3 linked regions of the Homo sapiens genome follow. The protein of the gene in region 1 binds, or shares a complex with, the protein of each later gene. Each region holds a gene or a part of one and is shown on either strand. Other genes may lie near its edges.

The links. The genes of interacting proteins can lie anywhere in the genome.
Region 2: PPP4R3B (region 1) and PPP4R1 share a complex: the UniProt entries of both Homo sapiens proteins name them as parts of the PP4 complex.
Region 3: PPP4R3B (region 1) and PPP4R2 share a complex: the UniProt entries of both Homo sapiens proteins name them as parts of the PP4 complex.

The regions. Positions count from the first base shown.
Region 1 is NC_000002.12:55,558,027-55,566,552, reverse strand, and holds part of PPP4R3B (serine/threonine-protein phosphatase 4 regulatory subunit 3B), read left to right. Parts: intron 1-702; exon of another isoform or gene 703-850; intron 851-1,341; coding exon of another isoform or gene 1,342-1,359; exon of another isoform or gene 1,360-1,397; intron 1,398-1,511; coding exon 1,512-1,651; intron 1,652-2,055; coding exon 2,056-2,240; intron 2,241-7,584; coding exon 7,585-7,778; intron 7,779-8,526. UniProt on the Homo sapiens protein: Regulatory subunit of serine/threonine-protein phosphatase 4 (PP4). May regulate the activity of PPP4C at centrosomal microtubule organizing centers.
Region 2 is NC_000018.10:9,604,560-9,612,322, forward strand, and holds part of PPP4R1 (serine/threonine-protein phosphatase 4 regulatory subunit 1), read right to left. Parts: intron 1-7,763. UniProt on the Homo sapiens protein: Regulatory subunit of serine/threonine-protein phosphatase 4. May play a role in regulation of cell division in renal glomeruli. The PPP4C-PPP4R1 PP4 complex may play a role in dephosphorylation and regulation of HDAC3.
Region 3 is NC_000003.12:73,055,048-73,062,810, forward strand, and holds part of PPP4R2 (serine/threonine-protein phosphatase 4 regulatory subunit 2), read left to right. Parts: intron 1-3,989; coding exon 3,990-4,083; intron 4,084-5,975; coding exon 5,976-6,013; intron 6,014-6,611; exon of another isoform or gene 6,612-7,034; coding exon of another isoform or gene 7,035-7,763. Other genes in the region: EBLN2 (endogenous Bornavirus-like nucleoprotein 2), read left to right, coding at 7,035-7,763. UniProt on the Homo sapiens protein: Regulatory subunit of serine/threonine-protein phosphatase 4 (PP4). May regulate the activity of PPP4C at centrosomal microtubule organizing centers.

The DNA.
Region 1 (8,526 bases):
GAGGATAGAAGTCTTTAACCTGGTAAAAGAAGGAACATGGTTAACTAGCTCACTAGTTCCCATTGTACTGCTGCAATAAATCAAAGCTTTATATTTTATTTACTTTATATTATTCTCCTTTAAAATTTTGGTGAGATACAGATAAAGCAAATGGTAGAGTTTACAACCCTGTCCCTATGCCCATGATGGAATTGTTTTTGTGAAAATAAGTTCGAGTGGTCGATTTGTGTACCTTGTGCCCCAAAACTTAATGTATTTTTTCGTTTCACATATAACATAGAGCCATTACCTAGGTTTCTAATTTCTGATTTGCGTATTTTTTTTCAATTGAGAAGTACAGGAGAACTAGTTTTAAGACTTAAAATCCATAATGCAACCAAATTATGGTGTATCTTTTCAAGAAATGACCTGTGTGTTTCTTACTATGTAGTGTTATCTGTAAAGTCCTCAATCACAACTTTAATTTTTTTTTTTAAAATAAGCCTACTGGGCATGCATGCATTTGCAGTGATGGTTTAGAATTTAGAAGTTATTACTATCAATTAGTTTATTTCACAGATATTATACTATTGGAAGACTATAGGAATAGACAAGTAGAATTCCAGATAGTTTATCAGATCTGTGTGTATAATATAGTCAGAGAAGTCTTTGCTTCTTATTATTTAGGTAACACGTGTCCTCTGTTGTTTTTTCTTCTTCTGTGTGTGTGAAAGCCAGCCTCTGATGTGGGAAAGGCTTGAGAGAGATCTCTTTGTCATCAAGCCTTTGCCAGCTCCTATATGATATATGTGGCAGAGTTAGGCTCATTTGAAAACTTAACAAATGTACCAGAAAGAAAACCACCACAACCATATCCCATTTTGATAGCAGTTAAACAGGAAGTCATTAAATAAGACCTGTTTGTTGAAAAATATGTTTTTCTTTTATTAATACATAATATTATACAGATGTATTTGGTACATGTATTTATTTTTTACATGCATAGAATGTGTAATGATCAAGTCCGGGTATTTGGGGTATCCATCACCGTGAGTATTTTGAAAATGTAATTTTAACATCTGCCCTCTAACCAGCCGTGTGCTCTGGATCAAACCATCCAGCCTCTCTTAGAGCCTCAATTTTGGTTTTTCTCTAAAATGGGAATAATAAAACCTATCTCATAGAATTGTTGTGAAGATCAAATGAAATTTTATGTAAAAGTGCTTTTTAAATTGTAAACTGCTATATATATATATATATATACAAAAAATAGAAGATGTAAAATAAATCTATTTACTTTTCGAATGCTCTTTATAGTCCTATAAAAGGACTCCAGTAAATTGCTTCTCCTTTTTTTTCAAGTTTTCTGTGCAGTCCTGACTCATGTGTAAAGAAACCAGGACATTACATTTTGGAAGGTGATTTTGAAAAACCTTTTTTGATCAGCTTTAGAACTACAAAACAAAATTTTAAAGTTTTTCTTCTAACAAGCATTGTATTATATTTTAAATGTAAATTTTGTGCTTATACAGGAAGATATCAAGTCTCTTACTGCCCATATAGTTGAAAACTTTTATAAAGCACTTGAATCGATTGAATATGTTCAGACATTCAAAGGATTGAAGACTAAATATGAGCAAGAAAAAGACAGACAAAATCAGAAACTGAACAGGTATTGTTTAAGTATACTGCTTTTATAGCCTACAAAACTGTGTCCAAAATTGTTTGTAGTTCAGATTTTCCATGTGAAATTTACTGAGGAATTTTCTTTCCATCACTGGATAGCATAGAGTTGAATAGGAGGGTAAGGCGTCCCCCCTACCCCATATCATTTATATGTTGAATTACTACTCCATGTTGTAACTTACGAAGAATATTTAGTTTAATTTACAACATCCTAAAATATTTTGGAGTGTTCTCTGGCTACATCTTCTATCATTACAGAGATTATTTTGATATAAATTATAGTCAGTTAAAATTACTTCAGTTCATCTTGGTTATACATATTTTTCCTTCAGTTCAATCTGATGATGAACTTTAAATCATTACTCAATATTTGTGATATATTTCTTACAGTGTACCATCTATATTGCGTAGTAACAGATTTCGCAGAGATGCAAAAGCCTTGGAAGAGGATGAAGAAATGTGGTTTAATGAAGATGAAGAAGAGGAAGGAAAAGCAGTTGTGGCACCAGTGGAAAAACCTAAGCCAGAAGATGATTTTCCAGATAATTATGAAAAGTTTATGGAGACTAAAAAAGGTATTAAAATTCGGAATTTTTGCACAGTGTACCCTCTTATTTAGTGCAGAAATTATTTTGTTGCTTTGTGAAGGTTTGTTTATAGTTTACAAAGCAAGAAAGACAAAAATTTTATACCAAACTGTGTTCTTTTAAAATTATGTACTTTTTCCAAATCTGTCTGGGAATTCTTTTCATGTTTAAAATGTTTCTCTTCAAACTTGCTATTTTGTAATGCTGTTAATTTGCTAGTTAGAAATTGAATTATCTACTTATACTTTTCTTTCTGTGAATAGTCTTGGCTTTATTTCTATACTGAAATTCTCAGTAATAACAGAGACCATATAGCTTCATAGAAACCTTCTAGAGTACTTTGCCTGTGTCTTTTACAGCTGATAAACTGAGCTCAAACAAGTAACTTTGCTCTTTGAAATTTTAAAATTACAAAAGTTACATAAAGATATACTAACAAGAGAAGTGAAAAAGTAAAACTTCCCCTGGCTTTCAGATGTGCTTAACTTGTTTTATAAAATGAAGATCTTGCTAGTAATATATCTTTCAAAAGAACTAACCATTTTACTTCTGTGGCCTGAGGAATTACCATTTTTTGGAATACTGCCCTGAGTATATCATTTAAATATTTAATTAAAATTTATACCTTGCTGGGCATGGCGGCTCACGTCTGTAATCCCAGCACTTTGGGAGACTGAGGCAGGTGGATCATTTGAGCCCAGGAGTTCCAAACCACCCTGGGTAACATGGTAAAACCCTGTCTCTACAAAAAAACACAAAAATTAAATGGGCACAGTGGCACTTACCTGGAGTCCCAGCTACTAGGAAGGCTGAGGCTGGAGGATCACTTGAGCCCAGGAGGTCGAAGCTGCAGTGAGCCATGAGCTGCCGCTGCACTCCAGCTTAATAACAGAGAAAGACCTTATCTCAAAAACAAAAGAAAAAATTTATGTCTTAGAAGATAAAAGCCTTTCTTGGATTTATTATGTAAGTTTGTGATTTTGAATGTGACATTTTCTAAAGACAATTCTCAGAAAATTAATTTCATTTATTACATTTTCTTTGAAACTATTGTTCGTACTCATTTTCAACTCATTAGTTTGATAAGTTTTATTTGCCTCAGCGTGGCGGAGCAAAAAGCTTATTAAAATATCCTAAGAAATCGGTACCTTTGCTAGACAAATTCTTCTGCCTTTACTCATTACAGGTACTGCCCTGACTATTGTCAAAAGAGGCAGTACAGCCATATTTGAAGTTCTGTATCCAGTGTTGAGTGAGATGCTGTTAAGAATCATATATAAAAATAATAACCAGATGTTAAAAGGGATTGGACACCTATGTCATAACACAAACAGAAAAAGGAACCTGGAATATTTAGGACTTACGGACTTGATCATTGTCTTTAGGCATTTGGAATATTGACTTGTGAGAGAAATTACTAGGTTTTTACCATGAGTAAAGAAGTGTAGAGTCAGTGAGTGGAAGCTACAGGGAGACAATAAAAGGAAGAGTCAGACAGCTAATGAGATTTTAGATGTATGTGCTAGATACCACAATGTAGAGTTCTAGCATAGAATGGCTAATTTTGTTATGATCCGTAAGGTCCTTTCTAATACTGAGATTTCTAAGATTCTAGCTAATAAAGACTTACCACTTGTATTAGTTCGTTTTATACTGTTAAAAAGAACTACCTAAGACTGGGTAGTTTATGAAGAAAAGAGGTTTGATTAACTCACAGTTCTGTAGGCTTAACAGGAAACATGGCTGAAAGGCTTCGAGAACCTTACAGTCATGGTCGAAGGCGAAAGGAAAGCAAGCATATCTTAACCATGGTGGAGCGGGAGACAGAGAGTGTGAAGGAGGAGGTGCCATGCACTTTTGTTTGTTTGTTTGCTTTTTGAGATGGAGTCTCCTTCTCATTGCCCAGGCTGGAGTGCAGTGGCGTGATCTCGGCTCACTGCAACCTCTGCCTCCTGGGCTCAAGCAATTCTCCTGCCTCAGCCTCTCAAGTAGTTGGGATTACAGGCATGTACCACCACACCCAGCTAATTTTTATATTTTTAATAGAGATGGGGTTTCACCATGTTGGCCAGGCTGGTCTTGAACTCCTGGTCTCAGATGATTCACCCACTTTGGCCTCCCAAAGTGCTGGGATTACAGGCATGAGCCACCAAGCCCGGCCGAGGTGCCACACACTTTGAAACAACCAGATCTCGTGAGAACTCACTATCACAAAAATAGCAAGGGGGTTTTCTGCCTCCATGATTCAGTCATCTCCTCCAACACCTGGGGATTACAATTCACAATGAGATTTGGGTGGGGACAAGAGCCAAACCATATCATTCCACCCCGGTCCCTCCCTAATTTCATGTCCTTTTTACATTTCAAAACCAATCATGCCTTCCCAACAGTCCCCCATAACTCATTCCAGCATTAACTCAAAAGTCCAAGTCCAAAGTCTCATATGAGACAAAGTAAATCCCTTCTGCCTGTGATCCTATAAAATAAAAAACAAGTTAGTTACCTCCAAGATACAACGGGGGTACAGACATTGGGTAAATGCTCCCATTCCAAATGGAAGAAATTGGCCAAAACAAAGGGGCTACAGGCCCTGGGCAAGTGCAAAGCCCAGCAGGGCAGTCTTTAAATCTTAAAGCTCCAAAATAATCTCCTTTGACTCCATGTTTCACATCCAGGGCATGCTGATACAACAGGTAGGCTCCCAGGGCCATGGCTGGCTTCGCCCCTATGGCTTTGCCAGGTACAGCCCCCATGGCTGCTTTCATGGGCTAGAGTTGAGTGCCTGTGGCTTTTCCAGGTGCATGGTGCAAGCTGTTGGTAGATCTACTGTTCTGGGGTCTGGAGGATGGTGGCCCTCTTCTCATGGCTCCACTAGGCAGTATCCCAGTGGGGACTCTATGTGGGGGCTCCAACCTCACATTTCCCTTCCGCACTGCCCTAGTAGAGGTTCTTCATAAGAGCTCTGCCCCTGCAGCAGATTTCTGCCTAGATATCCAGGCATTTCTATATGTCTTCTGAAATCTAGGTGGTTTGAGAATCAGAGGTTACCAAACCTCAGTTCTTGCCTCTACCCCACAGGCCCCGTGTCACATGGAAGCCACCAAGAGTTGGGGCTTGCACGCTCTAAAGCCATGGCCCAAGCTGTACCTTGGCTCCTTTTCGCCATGGCTGGAGCTGCAGCACCTGGGATGCAGGGTGTCCCAAGACTGCACAGAGCAGCAGGGCCCTGGGCCCAGCTCACAAAACCATTTTTCCCTCCTAGGCCTCTGGGCCTGTGAATTAACATTTGGCTCCTTGTTACTTATTCAGATTTCTGCAGCCAGCTTGAATTTCTCCCCAGAAAATGGGGTTTTCTTTTCTACTGCATGGTCAGGCTGCAAGTTTTCCAAACTTTATGCTCTGCTCCCTTTTAAATATAAATTCTAATTTCAGACCATCTCTTTCTTCATGCATATGAGCATACGCTTTTAGAAACCGCCAGAAGGCCTCTTTTTTTTTTTTTTTTTTTTTTTTTTTTTTTTTCTGAGATGGAGTCTCTCTCTGTTGCCCAGGCTGGAATGCAGTGGCATGATCTCAGCTCACTGCAACCTCTGCCTCCCAGGTTCAACTGATTGTCCTGCCTCAGCCTCCCAAGTAGCTGGGACTATAGGTGTGTGCCACCACGCCCAGCTAATTTTTGTATTTTTAGTAGAGACAGGGTTTCACCCTGTTGGCCAGGCTGGTCTCCAACTCCTGACTTCGTGATCCGCTTGTCTCAGCCTCCCAAAGTGCTGGTGTTACAGGCATGAGCCACTGTGCCCAGCCCAGGCCACCACTTGAATGCTTTGCTGCTTAGAAATTTCTTCCACCAGATATCCTAAATCATCTCTCTCAAGTTCAAGTTCCACAGATCTCTAGGGCAGGGGCAAAATGCCGCCAGTCTCTTTGCTAAAGCATACCAAGTATGACCTTTACTCCAGTTCCGAATAAGTTCCTCACCTCCATCTGAGACCTCCTCAGCCTGGACTTCATTGTCCATATCACTGTTAGCATTTTGGTCAAAACCAGTCAACAAGTCTTTAGGAAGTTCCAGACTTTCCCATATCTTCCTGTCTTTTTCTAAGCCCTCCAAATTGTTCCAACCTCTGTCTATTACCCAGTTCCAAAGTCGCTTCCACATTTTCAGGTATCTTTTTTTTTGAGATGGAGTCTTATTCTGTCATCCATGCTGGTGGGCAGTGGCACAATCTCAGCTCACTGCATCCTCTGCCTCCAGGGTTCAAGCAATTCTCCTGCCTCAGCCACCAGAGCAGCTGGGATTATAGGTGTGCACCACCACCCCCAGCTAATTTTTGTATTTTTAATAGAGAATAGGTTTCATCATGTTGGCCAGGCTGATCTTGAACTCCTGACCTCAAGTGATCCACCCTCCTCAGCCACCCAAAGTGCTGGGATTACAGGCGTGAGCCACTGCGCCCTGCCATTTTCAGGTATCTTTATAGCAGTACCACATTCCTGTTACCAATTTTCTGTATAGTTCGTTTTCACACTGCTCTAAAGAACTACCTGAGACTGTAATTTATGAAGAAAAGAGGTATAATTGACTTAAAATTCCACATAGCTGGGGAGGCCTCAGGAAACTTGTGGCGGAAGGTGAATGGGAAACAAGGCATGTGTTACATGGCAGCAGGAGAGAGAGAGCAAGGGGGGAAGTGCCACCCTTTGGAACAACCAGATCTCGTGAGAACTCACTATCACAAGAACAGCAAGGGCGAAATCCACCCCCATGATCCAGTCACCTCTCACCAGGTCCCTCCCCTGACATGTGGGGATTACAATTTGATTTGCGATTTGGGTGGGGACACAGAGCCAGACCATATCATCACTGTACACATCATGTTCTTTTTCAAAAGTTCTTAGGAAACAAAGGCAATTAATTTTGGTGTTATTTTTTTTTGTTTTTTTGGTTTTTTTTGAGACGGAGTTTCGCTCTTGTTGCCCAGGCTGGAGTGCAGTGGTGCGATCTCGGCTCACCACAACCTCTGCCTCCCAGGTTCAAGTGATTCTCCTGCCTCAGCCTCCCAAGTAGCTAAGATTATAGACATGCGCCACCACACCCGGCTAATTTTGTATTTTTAGCAGAGACGGGGTTTCTCCATGTTGGTCAGGCTGGTCTTGAACTCCGGCCTTGGGTGATCTGCCTGCCTCAGCCTCCCAAAGTGTTGGGATTACAGGCGTGAGCCACCATGCCCGGGCAGCAATGTTTTATAAGTTTTTTAATTACTGCTGTTTTTAGATGTTTTGACTTAGCAGTATTTATTGATATACGTTCAAAATTTTACTTTTGCTTTAGCAAAAGAAAGTGAAGACAAGGAAAACCTTCCCAAAAGGACATCTCCTGGTGGCTTCAAATTTACTTTCTCCCACTCTGCCAGTGCTGCTAATGGAACAAACAGTAAATCTGTAGTGGCTCAGATACCACCAGCAACTTCTAATGGATCCTCTTCCAAAACCACAAACTTGCCTACGTCAGTAACAGCCACCAAGGTAGGTGAAACAGCATTACACACAAACTTTGCTTTTCCCGTCTGTGAGATTTTTTCATGTTTACTGAAAAAAATTTGGATAATCAAAACAATTTCAATGAATTGTTTAGAATTTTTCTGTTACCAAAATGTTGATTGTAGAATTTTATTTTATTTTATTTTATTTTTTGAGACAGAGTCTCACTCTGTCGCCAGGCTGGAGTGCAGTGGAGTGATCTCAGCTCACTGCAACCTCCGCCTCCCGGGTTCAAGCAGTTCTCCTGCCTCAGTCTCCCAAGTAGCTGGGACTACAGGCGCGTGCCACCACACCCAGCTAATTTTTGTATTTTTAGTAGAGACGAGGTTTCACCATGTTGGCCAGGATGGTCTCGATCTCTTGACCTCATGTTCCGCCCACCTCGGCCTCTCAAAGAGAATTTCATTTTATTTAGGCTTATGATAATAAATGTAAGCATCCTTCCTCCCTGTCCCCCATTCTATTTTGGAGCACTTAAGTTGATTCTAATATTTCACTGACTACTTAGTGTTACTGCATTTTAAATTATTTTCTTGGATAGTTTAGTAGTAGAACGTCTTCACACATACGGTCAAATTCATCTTCATAAAGTCTATGCCAGTTTATGTTACCATAAACTGTGTATGAGTGTGCGTGGCCAATTGCAGCTTTGCCAGTGCTATAATTATTTTTAGTATTTGCCAGTTAGGTAGGGGAGACAGTATATAATATCTCATTTCCAATCGTGTATACT
Region 2 (7,763 bases), on another chromosome or scaffold:
CCATTTCTGTCCTCTCTAACCTCATCTCAGCTTAAATTTACCTATTACTAACAACACCCAGGAGGCATTTTCTATTTTCTAATTAAGAGTTCTTCCTTTTAATTCCCTGCCGTCTTGGGTGCCCTTGCTTTTACTCCACCAATAATTGCAAAGTATTTTTCCTTTTTTTCATATTCTCCTACCTTCCCTTCTCCTCTCCCTCCCCAACATATATAAATTCCCTAAAGATTGTCTTGCTAAACTTTTCATTATCTAAAAAACAGAGTCCAATGCTTCTCATGGAGGCACATTCATTAATATTTGTTAATGAAAATGTAGTCCATAGGGATAATTGATAAGTCAAGAGTTTACTATACTTTATCCTTCTCTAAGATATTCACAAGCACATTAGCATATTAATACCTTGAGAAGTATCACACCAAAGAGAACTTTTTAATTCGTACAAACTTTTATCAAAATTGATCAAAACACCCTTCTATTCTCTACATAATCTCTAATAATGTAACGTAAAACATAAAAAAGCTCATAGTCTATCCTTCCCTTCAGTTTTTCCCTAGATACTGCTCAGGCCACAATAAATCGGCCACATTTTGTTTCCCATCTTTACATTTTAGAAAATGAAAGACAATGAGATACACCACAGAATGAGTTACCTTATAAAGATTTGGGGCTTTAAAATTATATTTTAACAAATAAATATACCAACAAATGAATAGGGAGGAAGATCAGGCTCTTCTATAAAGCAGAATGTCAGCTAGTAAATGCAATTAATTCAGGCAAGAATCATCAACACATTCTAACACTAAATGGGTAAATGTTTGGAAACAGGGTATTTCCCCATTGTCAAACTATTTCCTTACTAATTACAATAGGAAAAACAGAATCTTTACAGTGGAGCAATTTGATAGACATCACCTCCACACTACCAGTAATGGACACTGCTATCAGGTGCTCCTTAATCTGAAGCACTGAGAAAACTACACTATCACTTATGTAGCAGTCCTGTCAAAAAAAAAAAAAAAAAAAAAAAAAAAAAGGAAAGAATAACCTGAATCAAATCATGAGGAAACAGATAAAACCAAATGGACTCTTCAAAAATGTCAATTTCATGAATGCTAAAGGCTGAGAAATTGTTCCAAACTAGTAAGTTTGTAAGTAATGTCCTTACAGCAAAAGACAGTTGCCATAAGGACATTACTGGGGATATTTCAATATGTACTACATACTATATAACAGGATTGTAGCAATGTTAAATTTCCCAAATTTCATTACTATGATTGTAAAAGTGCCCTTGTTCTTAGGAGACACAGGCTAAAGGTCCCAATGACCACAACCTATTTTCAAAGGTACACCAAAAAATTACATTACATTGTGTGTGTGTACATAACTGTATAGAGAAGTAACGAGCAAACTGGCAAAATGTTAACAGCTTAATTCAGGTGAAGAGTTGGGAATTCATTACAATATCTGTGCAGCTTTTGTATAGGTCTGAAAGTTTTCAAAATAACAAGTTTAATTAAAAATAATTTCATTATTTGACCCCAAATTAGGTTTACGGTCTTATTTAGCTTGGTGTGAAACATCAAGATTCATTCAATACTTATTCTACATTAAGCACTGATGAGATGTATTGCTGAACACTGTGTGATGAGTCAAGAATAAAAATGTTACAGACCTTGGATTTTATAGCACAGTGAAGGGGTTGGCCAACTACAGCCAGCGAGCCAAACTGGCCCACCTTCTGTTTTCGTAAATAAAATTTTATTGGATGACACTTACTTTCATTCATTTCTGTATTGTCATGGCTGCTTTTACCTTACAACAGCAGATCTGAGTAGCTGCAACAAAGATCATATGGTCCACAAAACCTAAACTATTTAATATTTGGCCTTTTACAGGGACCATACAACATAATCTTTATAGTCTCCAGCAACAGGTATGTCAAACTTTAATTTTGTACTTTGCAATAATATAAATAATGTTTATCAGAAACCCTTCCTTCAAATATCAATACTAAAAGCTTACTAAATCCTTAGAAATGCAAAATTGTCCTATAGCACAACTGAATTTAAGGCAAGAATAATTTGCTGAAGTATACTATATGTATATTCATATATGTATTTATATTTATATATATACACCATATGTATAATGTATTTCTATTTATATAATACAGTAGTGGCATGTTTATCTAGTTTCAAGTTAGTTACCAAGATTATGTATACAAACAGTATTTAACAGAAAGGTAGTATAACAAAGCACTTGCTCTGACATACACTTGTGGATCTCCCAAATATTATAGATATTTGTTCCCTTCAGTGAGTAAAAATTTTCTTTGCACTCTTAACGCAATTACTTTGGTAGTAACCTTTTTTCCCACAGGTAATCCAAATACAAAATTTGAACTAACTCAGGTCCAAATTGCCACCAATCTTAAATAAATGAAGTATTGAATAAATGAGTTATTTCTATCAAAAATGAATTTCATAGATTTAAATATAAAAGTGATCTACATCAGGCTGGGTGCAGTGGCTCACACCTGTAATTCCAGCACTTTGGGAGGCCAAGACAGGTGGATTGCTTGAGCTCAGGAGCTCAAGGCCAGCCTAGACAACATGGCAAAACCCCATCTCTACCAAAAATACAAAAAAATTAGCCAGGCGTGGTGGTGCAGGCCTGTGGTCCCAGCTACTTGGTAAGCTGAGGTGGGAGGATTACTTGAGTCCGGGAAGCAGACGTTGCAGTGAGCCAAGATAGTGCCATTACACTCCAGCCTGGGCAACAGAGCCAGACCCTGTCTCAAAAAAAAAAAAACAAAAACAGAAACATGGATAAATGAAAGTCAAAACCGAGTAGTAGAGACATGATGGTCCATCTGCCTTTGTATATGTCTTAAGTATCTGTAATATATAACGAACTCTCAAAATTTAATAAGAAAATGTCCCAATGAAAAGATGAGCAAAAGATGTGAAAAGGCACTTCACCAAAGGAGATAAGTTAGATGGCAAATGAGCACATAAAAAGAGTAACATAATTAGCCATTAATGCAAATTCAAGCCACAAATTAATACTATTATACATTTAATAAGAGTGGCTAAAATTAAGACTGCTCACACTAAGTGTTGACAATGATGATGAGGACCTGGAACTCTCATACACTTTTGGTGGGAATGGAAAATGATATAACCACTTTGGAAAACAGTTTGGCAGTTTTTCTTTCTTTCTTTTTTTTTTTTTTTTTTTGGATGGAGTTTCGCTCGTTGCCCAGGCTGGAGTGCAATGATGCAATCTCGGCTCACTGCAACCTCTGCCTCCCAGGTTCAAGTGATTCTCCTGCCTCAGCCTCCCGAGTAGCTAGGATTACAGGCATGCACCACCACGCCCAGCTAATTCTTTGTATTTTTAATAGAGACGGGGTTTCACCATGTTGGCCAGGCTGGTCTTGAACTCCTGATCTCGGGTGATCCACCCGCCTCGTTCTCCCAAAGTGCTGGGATTACAGGCATAAGCCACCGCACCGGGCTGGCAGTTTCTTAAAAAGTTAAACAGCCATTCTACTTCTAGATGTATACCCAAGAGAAAGAACATATATATTCACACAGACTTGTGTGTGAATGTTCATAGCAGCTTTATTTGTAACAGCAAAAAAACTGCAGATGATCCAAAAATCCATCAACATTTTAAAGGTAGAAAGCTGAGAAAAAGTTAACTTGCTCAGATTATAAAGAGAATAAATGGCAGGGCCAGAATATTAACTCAGGTCTAAAGGCTTACCAAGCCCAGTGTTCTTTCCCCTACACAAAACTATACTGAGGTATCTTCCAGAATGACTGCATGATAGATGCTCAAATACCAACCACATTCATATCAATAAGGCCAGAAAGTAAGTTAAGTTTGCTCCTTAGTCTAGGGAGATAAGAAGCTAAGATGACTTAAAAGTTAGGAGAGTTAAGAAATGAATGTGGAGGAAGCAGCATTGATGATGTCACCAGCTCAAAGATCTGTGCTAAAAGCAGAGCAAGTTCCAGACCCTCTTATAGAAATTAGAGGGAATACCTCCTCAGCCAAAATTCCATAGGTGTGCCATCCAGACTTCTGCCCAAAACACTAAGTTAGGTTTATTCTCAGCTCCAATTTAAAAACAACAACACAACTCTAATTCAAATTTAGGAACTTTCAAATTCTTTTACTCCAAAATATAAAAAAAAGATGTAATACAAACATAGGAGCAAGGTAACAATAGTTTAATAAACATACATTCATTGTTTTGAGGAGACTGAGAGAAAAGGACCAGAAATAATAAACCAGAGATCAAACAAATGTGGCAGCAGACTTCTGAACTTTACCTCCTGAGGTCTATTTATCTTTCACAGGCAGGAACAAACAAAAAGTATGCATTTAGGTGTCTTGGTTTTTTATTTTTTGGAGGGGGGAGGGCAGTGGATCGTGTAGCTACAGGCCCAAGCATATTTACAAAGGGGTTTTTCTCTCTGTCTCTCTCTCTCTCTCTTTCAATTTTATGTGGGAAGTTGTTAGCAGAGGTATCATTAATTGATCCAACACACATGTGGGTACCACTGAAACCATTTTAAAAGCACTCTTTTCTAAGATATCAATGATATTATCTCTAAATAAAGATCTCTCCATCCAGGCTTGTTGGCAGCAGTCAAAACAGGCTACCAGGTCTCACGACTCACCCTCCCAAATCCCTATTTAACAATACTCCTAAATATGATTCACGTTCAAGGGCACCTTCCAAAGGTTTCTGAATGATTCCCTGGCCACTACCAGATACAGCCCCAATATTTTGCTCCTCACCTCCCACCGGAAGCAAGGACTCTAAGCTTATCAGAACTGGTTTTGAAACATGGTAGGAAGGCCTGAAGATTCTGCACAGAGTGCGGTCTAGGCGGTTACCCTCAGTTAGTTCTGGACCCATCCTTCACTCTACTTCAACACCGCCCTTAAACCCGAAAAACAGCATAATGTAAAAGGATTCCAAAACTTAAATATGAAAAAAGTCTGTTGTATGGCATACTCAATAACATAGCTTCAAAAACTTTTCAACGTCATACTTAGTTACAGCTGAGATAAAAGTTAACGACTAAATAAGCTGTCTTATACCCAAGCTCCATCCTCTCTATCATTCTCCAGGTGTAAACTAAACCACATGCAGCATCCCAGATTAATTTTCAAGGGTACTTTAAGAACGAGTTCAAAGAAATTGCCTGTACAAGTTTGGGTTGATCAATATTTTAAACTGGGCCATTTAAGAAAATATTCAAAATATGATATTTAGAATCAGAAGGCCTAGCTTAAAATTCCGTCTAAACTTAGGAGTTTTGTTTCTTTAGTCCCTTTGGGCATTAGTCAACTTACTTATTAGTATTAGAATACCACAGCCTACACATCACAGGACTGCTGTGAAGAATAACCTGTGTATGAAAGGCACTGTAAACTAAGCGTTACATAGCCATTCTTTAAAAATAACATTCTTCAACATATTACTTTGATAAAAGCTTAAGTTCTAATGAAACTCCTTCAATGAAATTATTTTTACAAGCATTGGCTCATCAAATCTTAACCGTATCTTAGTCTCATTTCATTTTAGGAATCTACCAACTTAAATGTGAATCAAAATTGCATCTTTGGAAACTAAAACAGAAATCTGAAATAATTTTTTCTAAACATCTACAATTTTGTATTGTCTCCCATTATTTAAGGAACATAATTAAATATAAAAAGTTAAAAAGGGTTTACCCAACTCTGAAATCTGCTGAGATAACCTATGTTCAAATGGAGTCACTGGTTTGCTTTCAATTTGAAATTCAAAGTATTTCATGATACAGTACTGAAAGTTTCACTTTTAAACTTAAATACATATGGTTTTTATTGCATTATTCTCCTAAACTTTTTTTTTTTGAGACGGAGTCTTGCTCTGTCGCCAGGCTGGAGTGCAGTAGCACAATCTTGGCTCACTGCAACCTCTACCTCCTGGGTTCAAGCAACTCCCCTGCCTCAGCCTCCTGAGCAGCTGCGACTACAGGTGCACGCCACCACGCCCAGTTAATTTTTTTTTGTATTTCAGTAGACATTTCACCATGTTGGCCAGGATGGTCTCGATCTCCTGACCTCGTGATCCGCCCACCTCGGCCTCCCAAAGTGCTGGGATTACAGGCATGAGCCACTGCACCCAGCCTATTCTCCTAAATTTAAGAGTACCTGATAATGATTTCATTTACTTACCTTTATAAGTTACTTGATAAAAGTTTAAGTTCTAATGAAACTCCTTCAATGAAATTATGTGTACACACACACACACACACACACACACACAAATACCATCCATTTTTCCCTCATTAGGATTTTTTTTCCTCCAAAGGTTATCAGTCAAGTCAGTCTTTGACCAACCTTTTCCCCGACTCTGTGCCTCTGTACAGAGACGGGATTAAAACAAATCAAATCGAAAGACCTGAGACTCTTAGCAATGTCTGGCAATGCCCCTCTTTCAAGTCCTAGACTCCAGCTAGGTCCTTTCCTAGATCATCTGCACAACAGAACTTACTGTCTCTTCCCTCATAGTCCAGGTTCTGCATTTAGGAAGGTCAACCAAGATTCTAGAGCTTGACCAGAAAACAATTTCTTCCCATCCCAAGGGCCAACTTACACCTAGCTTGGCTGAAGTAGTAGGACTTGTTTACAACTACTCTGGAGGTTGGGCTCCATACTCTGGAGTTTTACCATAGACAGAGAAACTCAGGCTCACGAGATAACAACCGTGTTATAAGGGCAGCCCAAGCTCCGTTCCTCTACCTTTGGGTCCTCTACCTTCTCCAGCTTCTCCAGGATGTGACAGCTGTCTCAGTCCTTTACCAACCATCTTGCTCTCTAAGGAGGCACCATGGCCCAGTGTTCCCCCTCATTCTTTCTCCCTTCACAAGAGATGGGAAGTGGTCCTTCAACTGGCCATATGTCCAAAAGTCCTTTGTTCCTGAATATTCTGGGTAAAGGTATCACCTGTAAAAACTTTAGTAACTGAGAAAAATAAGCAATTACTCTAACAAAGCCTTCAACCAAATTATGAATATGCAAATAACTATTGTGCCTTCAATGTCTGTTTTATCCTAAATTAAAATGCACAGGAAACAGAATCTTTAAAAAGTTAGTTGCAGCCGGGCGCAGTGGCTCACGCCTGTAATCCCAGCACTTTGGGAGGCCAAGGCAGGTGGATCACCTGAGGTCGGGAGTTCGAGACCAGCCTGATCAACATGGAGAAACCCCGTCTCTACTAAAAGTACAAAATTAGCCAGGCGTGGTGGCACACGCCTGTAATCCCAGTTACTTGGGAGGCTGAGGCAGGAGAATCACTTGAACCCGGGAGGCAGAGGTTGCGGTGAGCCGAGATCGCGCCATTTTGCACTCCAGCCTGGGCAACAAGAGTGAAACTCCATCTCAAAAAAAAAAAAAATTTAGTTGCGAGCATTGGCAGCATCTTTAAGTACCTTCATTCTGTAAGGTTCAACATCAGTGTTTCCTTCTCTGCTCTTCTTTTAAGCTTCCCTTGCTCTTTTCTCATAACAGCAAACATAATCATAATCATCGCTGTTTACCAGGAATTGTTCCAAGTGCTTCAGAGGCACTAACTCATGTACAGCCTTGAACAACTCTATGAAGTAGGTAATATTTCTTATGCCTACTTACAAATGACAAAACTGAGGCATAGGGAGGTTAAGTGAGTTGCCCAAGTCTGCCCAAAAAGACAC
Region 3 (7,763 bases), on another chromosome or scaffold:
TAAGATATATAAGGTAAAATGTGTGGTCCTATTAATTAGGGTAAGTTATTTTCCTTGGAATTAAAGGGAGTATTTTTAAAGACAGACCTATACTTTTGGTTTTGTTGGTCTTTGGACCATGTGTGCCTTCCCACAATCTCTATCAAAGAGTAGATGGAATGATGACAATAAGAACTAAGATTTATTGAACTTTCTGAAATATTTTAGGCACTGTTAGGTGATTTAATATACCATATACATTATGTCGTATTTAGTCGTCATGATAATCTTTGAAGTGTACTTGTAGAACCCTTGTTTTCAGACAAGACCCATGAGACCCATGAAGACTCAGGTAAATTCAGTTTTGAGTAAGGTCTCCTAGTGGGGTAGCGTGTGTGTGTGTGTGTGTGTGTGTGTGTGTGTGTGTGTATTAAAATATATATATATATTTAGCAAAGGTGGATCCTTAATGTGTGGGGCGGGGGGTTTAAAAAATGTTACTGGATGTTGTAGGCACTGTTTTAAAAAATTTGAGATGCTAGCTAGTCATGTCCTTTTTTCAGTTCCTTATATCATCTTAGTTTTCCATTTTACAATATGAATAAATCAGATGATATATCATTGCAGAGTAAACCAAACGCTTTTTTTTTTTTGGAGACAGTCTCACTCTTATCACCCAGGCTGGAGTGCAGTGGCTCAATCTCGACTCACTGCAACTTGCAACCTCCACCGCCCAGGTTCAAGCAATTCTTTTGCCTCAGCCTCCCGAGTAGCTAGGATTACAGGCCAGGCTGGTTCTTGAACTCCTGACCTCAGGGGATCGCCTGCTTCGGCTTCCCAAAGTCCTGGGATTACAGGCGTGAGCCACCGTGCCTGGCCCAGGGTTTTTTATTTTACAGTATAACTTTGCTAATGAACATCTGATCACCACTTCCCCCCAAATTTAAGGATTTCTGAATAGACTTTTCATTGAGAATGAGTGGCATGTGTGTTTAACGCTCCTCTCCCTATATTTGCTTTTCTTAGTATGTGTGGGAAAAGCCTTAATATTTTCAGAAGTTAGAATAAACTATTTTGTATGCTATGTCTAATGGATGAGTATCAGAGAGCAGAGCTTTCATATACTTGTACCAAATGCTTTCATTTTGTACTGGTTTTTCTGGTTTATTCTTGTGCCTCCTTTTAGAGGCCTACCTCACACTAAGTTTTCCCAGTGTCACGCTTACTAAGCTTGGCATACAGTTTATTCTGTCTCCATGGCACTTTTTATACAGTGTTGTTATTTATTACTGTAATTGTAATTATTTACATGTCTTTTGACTGCTGTTGAACAAGGTTGGTATTTCTAGTTTATAATAGGCTCTTATATTTATGGAATAAGTTTAAAAGTACAGTCTGTATGTAAAGAGACCTTTCAATGCTGTTACGTTCATTTATCATACTAATATTTCCAGTGGATCCATTGATTTGCAGAAAGTGTTTGGTTGGGATTTAGCCTGTCGTGTGAGAAAAGGAAGTGTTGTGTGACATTTTAGTGCCATCTATTGGATACTTGGTAAAATGACTTTTAAAGCTTCTTTTACTTTTTGAAATAAGGATCTTTTGAAAAAAGCTTCTGAAATTGTCTAAGAACTTAAACTCGTTTTATCATTGCTGGTATTGCTATGTAAACACATACCCCCCTCCCAAAGCAGTATTAATATTAAACAACACATAAAATATTAATAATTGGCTACAATTTAACTTACATTTCTAAAGAAAATTAGCCAAAGCATTCAGTGTACATGTTGTTAAACAAGAAGTTTTAAAATATTCATCTGTTAAAACTAATTTTAATTAGTGAGAAAACATTAGGTTTTAATGTGGGAAAGAATTTTAGTAGGAAGAAAAAGCATAATGACTAGACAGTATTTTTCAGTTAAGTACTATTTGAATACCCAAACACTTGTTGAATACCCAAACTGTTGGTGCTATTTTGTATATTTTGAATAATAAATTTTAATGACAGTATCACTATGGGGTGATTAATGAGGAAATAGCTTAGGTGTGTTGTGTGTGTAAGGTTTGAAGAGCCATGAACTAGAAGAGGAGCTAAGGTGAGTTATACCACTAATCTGAAATCCACGATAATACTGGGTTTCACGGACAGACAATTGAGAAACTAATACTGTTTGTTATACATGTGGAAAATGCTTAAACATTTTTAAAGTAGAGTTAGTTTTGTGTATTAGCTATAGATTTCTAATGGTTGTCTTTATAGGAATGAAACAAAAGATGTATAAGCTTATTGTTTCATACTTAGTAACGCTGTTGGTGTGCTTTGTACTTCCCCATTTAAAAGGATTCTTCATTTTGACATTGTACTTCACTCTGAGTAGATTTTCAAAAGCAAAAAAGTATTCTTCCTCAGAAACCCAGAGGAATTTCTAGTTGCTTCTGAATGTTTGGAATATCAGGCAAACATTTAATCTTTTATTCTGTGCCTTGTCTTTTGGTAGAACAGTTTTCTCACTTTTAGGTTTGGATTCGATTTTAGGTTTGAGACAAAAGATTGATTCTTGGACTCTCAAATTTATCTAAAAACATTTGTTCTCATATGAATAACATGCACTTTAAGCACTTTCAGAATTTTTTGCACATCTTATACTTTGAACATAAGAATAGTATTGACACAAAGAATATGAGAACCAAATGTAGTTTATCCAGTTAGAAAATAAACAACTATAATTTTGTAAAATACGTGTGGTACAATGGAAAGGACATGAGATTTGAAGTTAGAGAGACTGAGTTTGAGTCCTGGCATTTTAACTCACTAACTACTATACCTTGTGGTGGAAGAAAATTCTGTATCACACTGCCTATAAAAAATGAAGACCTTTGTGAATGTTAACTATTAATTTGAGGCTTTGTAATTCTTTTCATTAAAGAGAATAAATAGATTGGTATGGCAGACACTGAAGTCTGAAGATTTGTTTGTATTTGTTAGCTGCGTTTGTCGTACCTCGTGCTCATAACTTTGCTGTTCTGTTCAGCTTGTAATTCTTATGAATGCTAATAGCTACATGAGCTCAAAACTTAAAAATATTTATAAAATGATTTTAGTTCCAACTTATATCAGTTTTGTATTTACTGTGGTCAAGGAAAAATTGAGGTATAGTGAAATTATTTGGTAAAGTTAAATAAAAGTTGTGTATATTTTAAGTTGGATTAAACTTAGATTATATATGAAATTGCAATAATGGAGCAGAACCACATTTAAAATATTTGTAGTTTTGTTTGAACATTTTAAAGAAACCTTTGAGTGCAGAAGAATACTTGAGGAAAAATACATATATTAAATAACCCCCAACTTGATTATTATTTGTGTTACCTCTCTTGTAAACTTAAAAATCAAATTATCAGGATTTAGAATTTTCTATTATATAAAAATTTTTTCCTCAGTTTTGAAGCTTTCTGTTGATTTTGGGTGTTCTAAGTTGCTTTTTTTTTAAAAAAGAATTTCTGTTGGTAAATAGTAGGTTTACATATTTATGGGGTACATGAGATATTTTGATAGAGCCATACAATGCATTATAATCACATCAGGGTAAATGGGTTATCCATCACCTCAAGCGTTTCTTTATGCTTTGTGTTACAAACAGTACACTTATACTCTTAGTTATTTTAAAATGTACGATAAATTATTGTAGTCAACCTGTTGTGCTATCAAATACTAGATCTTATTCATTCTAACTATATTTTTGTACCCGTTAACCATTCCCCCCTCCCTCCCCCCCCACCTTTATTGCTTTTTAAAGGAAGGGAGAATGGTTTTTTTGTTAAATAGAAAGGTATGCTTATTTTATTGTCTTTTTTTAAATGACTCATCCATTTATTTCCCTATTATAGCATTTTCTTTTGTAGCTTAATACATGGGTGACTAGATACAGCTTTACCTAGCAAAAGAAATAATGTTCCTCGTTTTCTTGATTATCAGTGATCTCACACTGTAAAATTATATTTTTTTGCAGTATCCCTTTTACTATTCAGCGACTATGTGAATTGTTAACAGATCCAAGGAGAAACTATACAGGAACAGACAAATTTCTCAGAGGAGTAGAAAAGGTATTTATTTTATTATTGGAATTATATTATGCTGTGGTGTAATAGCTTTTATTTTAGAAAAGAACATTGAGTAAGATCTGTTTCGGGTACCACTTCTTGAAATATGTTTTTCAGCCTACCTTGAGTTTCCCAAATTGTTTTCCAAATTGCATTCTGTTTTACAGAGAGATTTAATAGGACCGGGTAGAGGAGGGTTTGTGTGTTGGTCATTGAAGTTTGGTGAAAGCAGCTTATTATTTCTTGGAAATTCATAGTGTATATCAACTTATTAAAGGTTCTGTGAAGTTATAATTGCTATTTTAACTTTATAGAGTGTTTTATAAACTTACACATGGAATTCATTTTCTCAATTCTGGAGTTCAAAGGTACATAACTTTGGAAACTTACTGGTGCCAAGCATGTAAATGAGGTATTGAGTAGAAAGATGCAGGTCAGATTTAGAGATAAACATTAGTGTTTGTGTGTGGAGGGGGTTGAGGGAGTGTTAGAATAAGGGAAGGGTATTCTGAATAAAGGAAATGGTGTGGGCTGGGTGTGGTGGCTCATGCCTGTAATTCCAGCACTTTGGGAGGCTGAGGTGGGTGGATCACGGTCAGGAGTTCGAGACCAGGCTGGCCAACATGGTGAAACCCTGTCTCTGCAAAAAATACAAAAACTAGCCGGGCGTGGTGGTGCACGCCTGTAATCCTAGCTACCCAGGAGGCTGAGGCAGGAGAATTGCTAGAACCTGGGAGACGGAGGTTGCAGAGAGCTGAGATGGCACCATTGCACTCCAGCCTGGGCAACAAAGTGAGACTCTGTCTCAGAAAAAAAAAAAAAAAAGGAAATGGTGTGAAGAACAAAGATTCAAGGTGTTTAAGGGAATGAAAAGTAAGAAATTGACTTGTCTTGAGTGAAAAATGAAGGAAGCCCTGTGAGAACCAAGATTGGACTAATGAGTTCTAATTTTCAGTTGATGGTTGGTCCGGAAACACTCCCCTGTTCATTTAAGGATCTGGTTCAAATCCACTTTATTTTACCCTGGGAACAGGAATCAAAAACCATTACATAGTGATTTACAGTAGTTTTTGTGGCCATACTGGATTAATATATTTTGTTGATCCTCTGTACACTCAATTGAATAATATCCCCAAAGGCCAGGAAACTGAGATGGCTCATCAGTACTTACTTTTCAGCTCCAGGAGTTGTAATAATTACATTTTGGAGATTTTCAGATAAAGTAGCAATATGTTACAGTAGTCATACCAGGTGCCCTGCCTTTAAATCAGGGTTGCAGTGTTTCATAGTTGTGTGACCTTGGGCCAGTTAGTTTTCTCCTCTGTAAAATGTGGTTAATAATAGGGCTGGGAGGGGGATTAAATGCAAAACACTTACTGTGACTCATACTAAACTTTCAGTGAACACTGAATATTAGTAAAGTTATTTTTACTGGGAAGATCATAAATATATTACAAAAAAGGTTTGAGTCTCTTTCTGTGGGATATATGATGCAACACAACAAGCCGTGGATTGGGTGTTGCTTTGTAAGGAAAATCAATTACATATGTCTTAAGTACTTCAATCTCTCAACATCTTTGTTGATTCCATCTGAGCTTAGTTACTCTACTACGTATAGTGTATGATGTTACGGGTCTAGAATAACTAGATTAGGGTAAAAAATAAGTATAGGAAAAAAAAAATTAGTGGCTGAGTAGGATATTCTCTTTTGGTCCTTTGTTATTGTTTTAGTTTTTGCTGTTTCACCAGTTTTCATTTTTAACCATTTTCCTTTACTAGCAAAATTAGAATCAATGGGAATTTAACCCACCAGAGTGATTTTAGAAACAAAAATGATGAAACTTTATGTTGTAGTACTTTTCTTCATACTAAATCACTGATTTTTGTTATTGCAGAATGTGATGGTTGTTAGCTGTGTTTATCCTTCTTCAGAGTAAGTATATTTTTTCTATTTCTAGTATATTATTTACTATATTTAATCATTTTATTGCTTCTAATATATTATTCTTAAAATAGACTGAATTTATTTAATATGTAATTAAGTGTGATAACATACTTGTGAACCTACCATTCAGTCCCCAAAGTAGAATATTACTAATAACATTATCTATATGTTTTTTCCATTAAAGAGATTTGGATTAAAGAGATTGGTGATTTACTGTAATTTTAATATTGTTGGATTTACATACTGTGGTGGCACTCATTGCCCTGAGATGCCATTCTAGATGCCTTTCCAGGGTGTCTCTAGGGCATAATTCCCATGTTTGGAATAACTACTTGATGGCTTTTCTCTTTATGATGGAAAATATTTCCAGTTGTCAAGATTTAGATATAGCAAAGTAAGAATTAAATTTGGATACAATTTCTCAACCTTGGAACTATGGACATTTTGTACCAGATAATTCTGTTGTGAGTGGGTGTCCTGGGGATTATAAGAGGTTTAGCACTGTCCTTGACCTCTACCCACTTATGCCAGTAGTGTTCCCCTCTCCAAATATCTTTAGACATTGCCAAATGTCTCTTGGAGATGTGAAAGGCAGGGAGGGGAGGTTGTCCCCTGCTGAGAACCATTGGTTTAAGGTTAATCTGGCTCTGCTTTCATAGACTACTCTGTTACCCAGGCTGGAGTGCGGTGATGAGTGATCATAGCTCACTGCAGCCTTAAACTCTAGTGATCCTCCCGCCTTGGCCTTCCAAAGTGCTGAGATTACAGATGTGAACCACCACACCCAGCCCAGTCAATTTGTTTTTAGAATGTTCCCAAGAATATAGTTATGTTGCTAAATAAGATACTAAAATAATCCCATACTATATTTCTTGACAGAAAAACTATTAAAATGTATACATGATAAAAATTTCTTTTATGAAGCAAAATATGTTTTGTTTTGCTCATGAACGTGAGGTATTTTGGAAAAATGGTAAAGAAGTGCAGAGTCAAGTCATAGCGACTAATAATGGGTTATTTTCTTAAATTGTATGCTTATGTTAATTCTCACAGTCTTTTTGTTTGGGTCTGTGACAGATCTTACAAAAGATCTTTTAGACCTATGATTCTTAACAAAATTAAAGAATTAAGTCGGAACCAATTTTCCACAATGTCTCATCTAAGAAAGGACTCACAGCCCAGCAGCCCAGGAGATGACGCAATGGACAGGAGTGGGCTCCCTGACCTTCAAGGAAGATTTGAGCTATCTGGGAAAAACAGACAGTATCCACTGGATGCATTGGAACCCCAACCCAGCATTGGGGATATTAAGGACATTAAAAAAGCAGCCAAGTCTATGCTAGACCCAGCACATAAATCTCATTTCCACCCTGTGACCCCAAGTTTAGTATTCTTGTGTTTCATATTTGATGGGTTACACCAGGCATTACTGAGTGTTGGTGTGAGCAAGAGGTCTAATACTGTGGTTGGGAATGAGAACGAGGAAAGGGGTACTCCTTATGCTAGCAGATTCAAAGATATGCCTAACTTTATTGCCCTTGAGAAGTCATCAGTTCTCCGCCACTGCTGTGACCTTTTGATAGGCATTGCGGCTGGATCAAGTGATAAGATTTGCACCAGCAGTCTCCAAGTTCAGAGACGATTCAAGGCAATGATGGCATCTATTGGAAGACTTTCACATGGTGAGAGTGCTGATCTGCTAATCAGCTGCAATGCAGAATCAGCCATAGGTTGGATC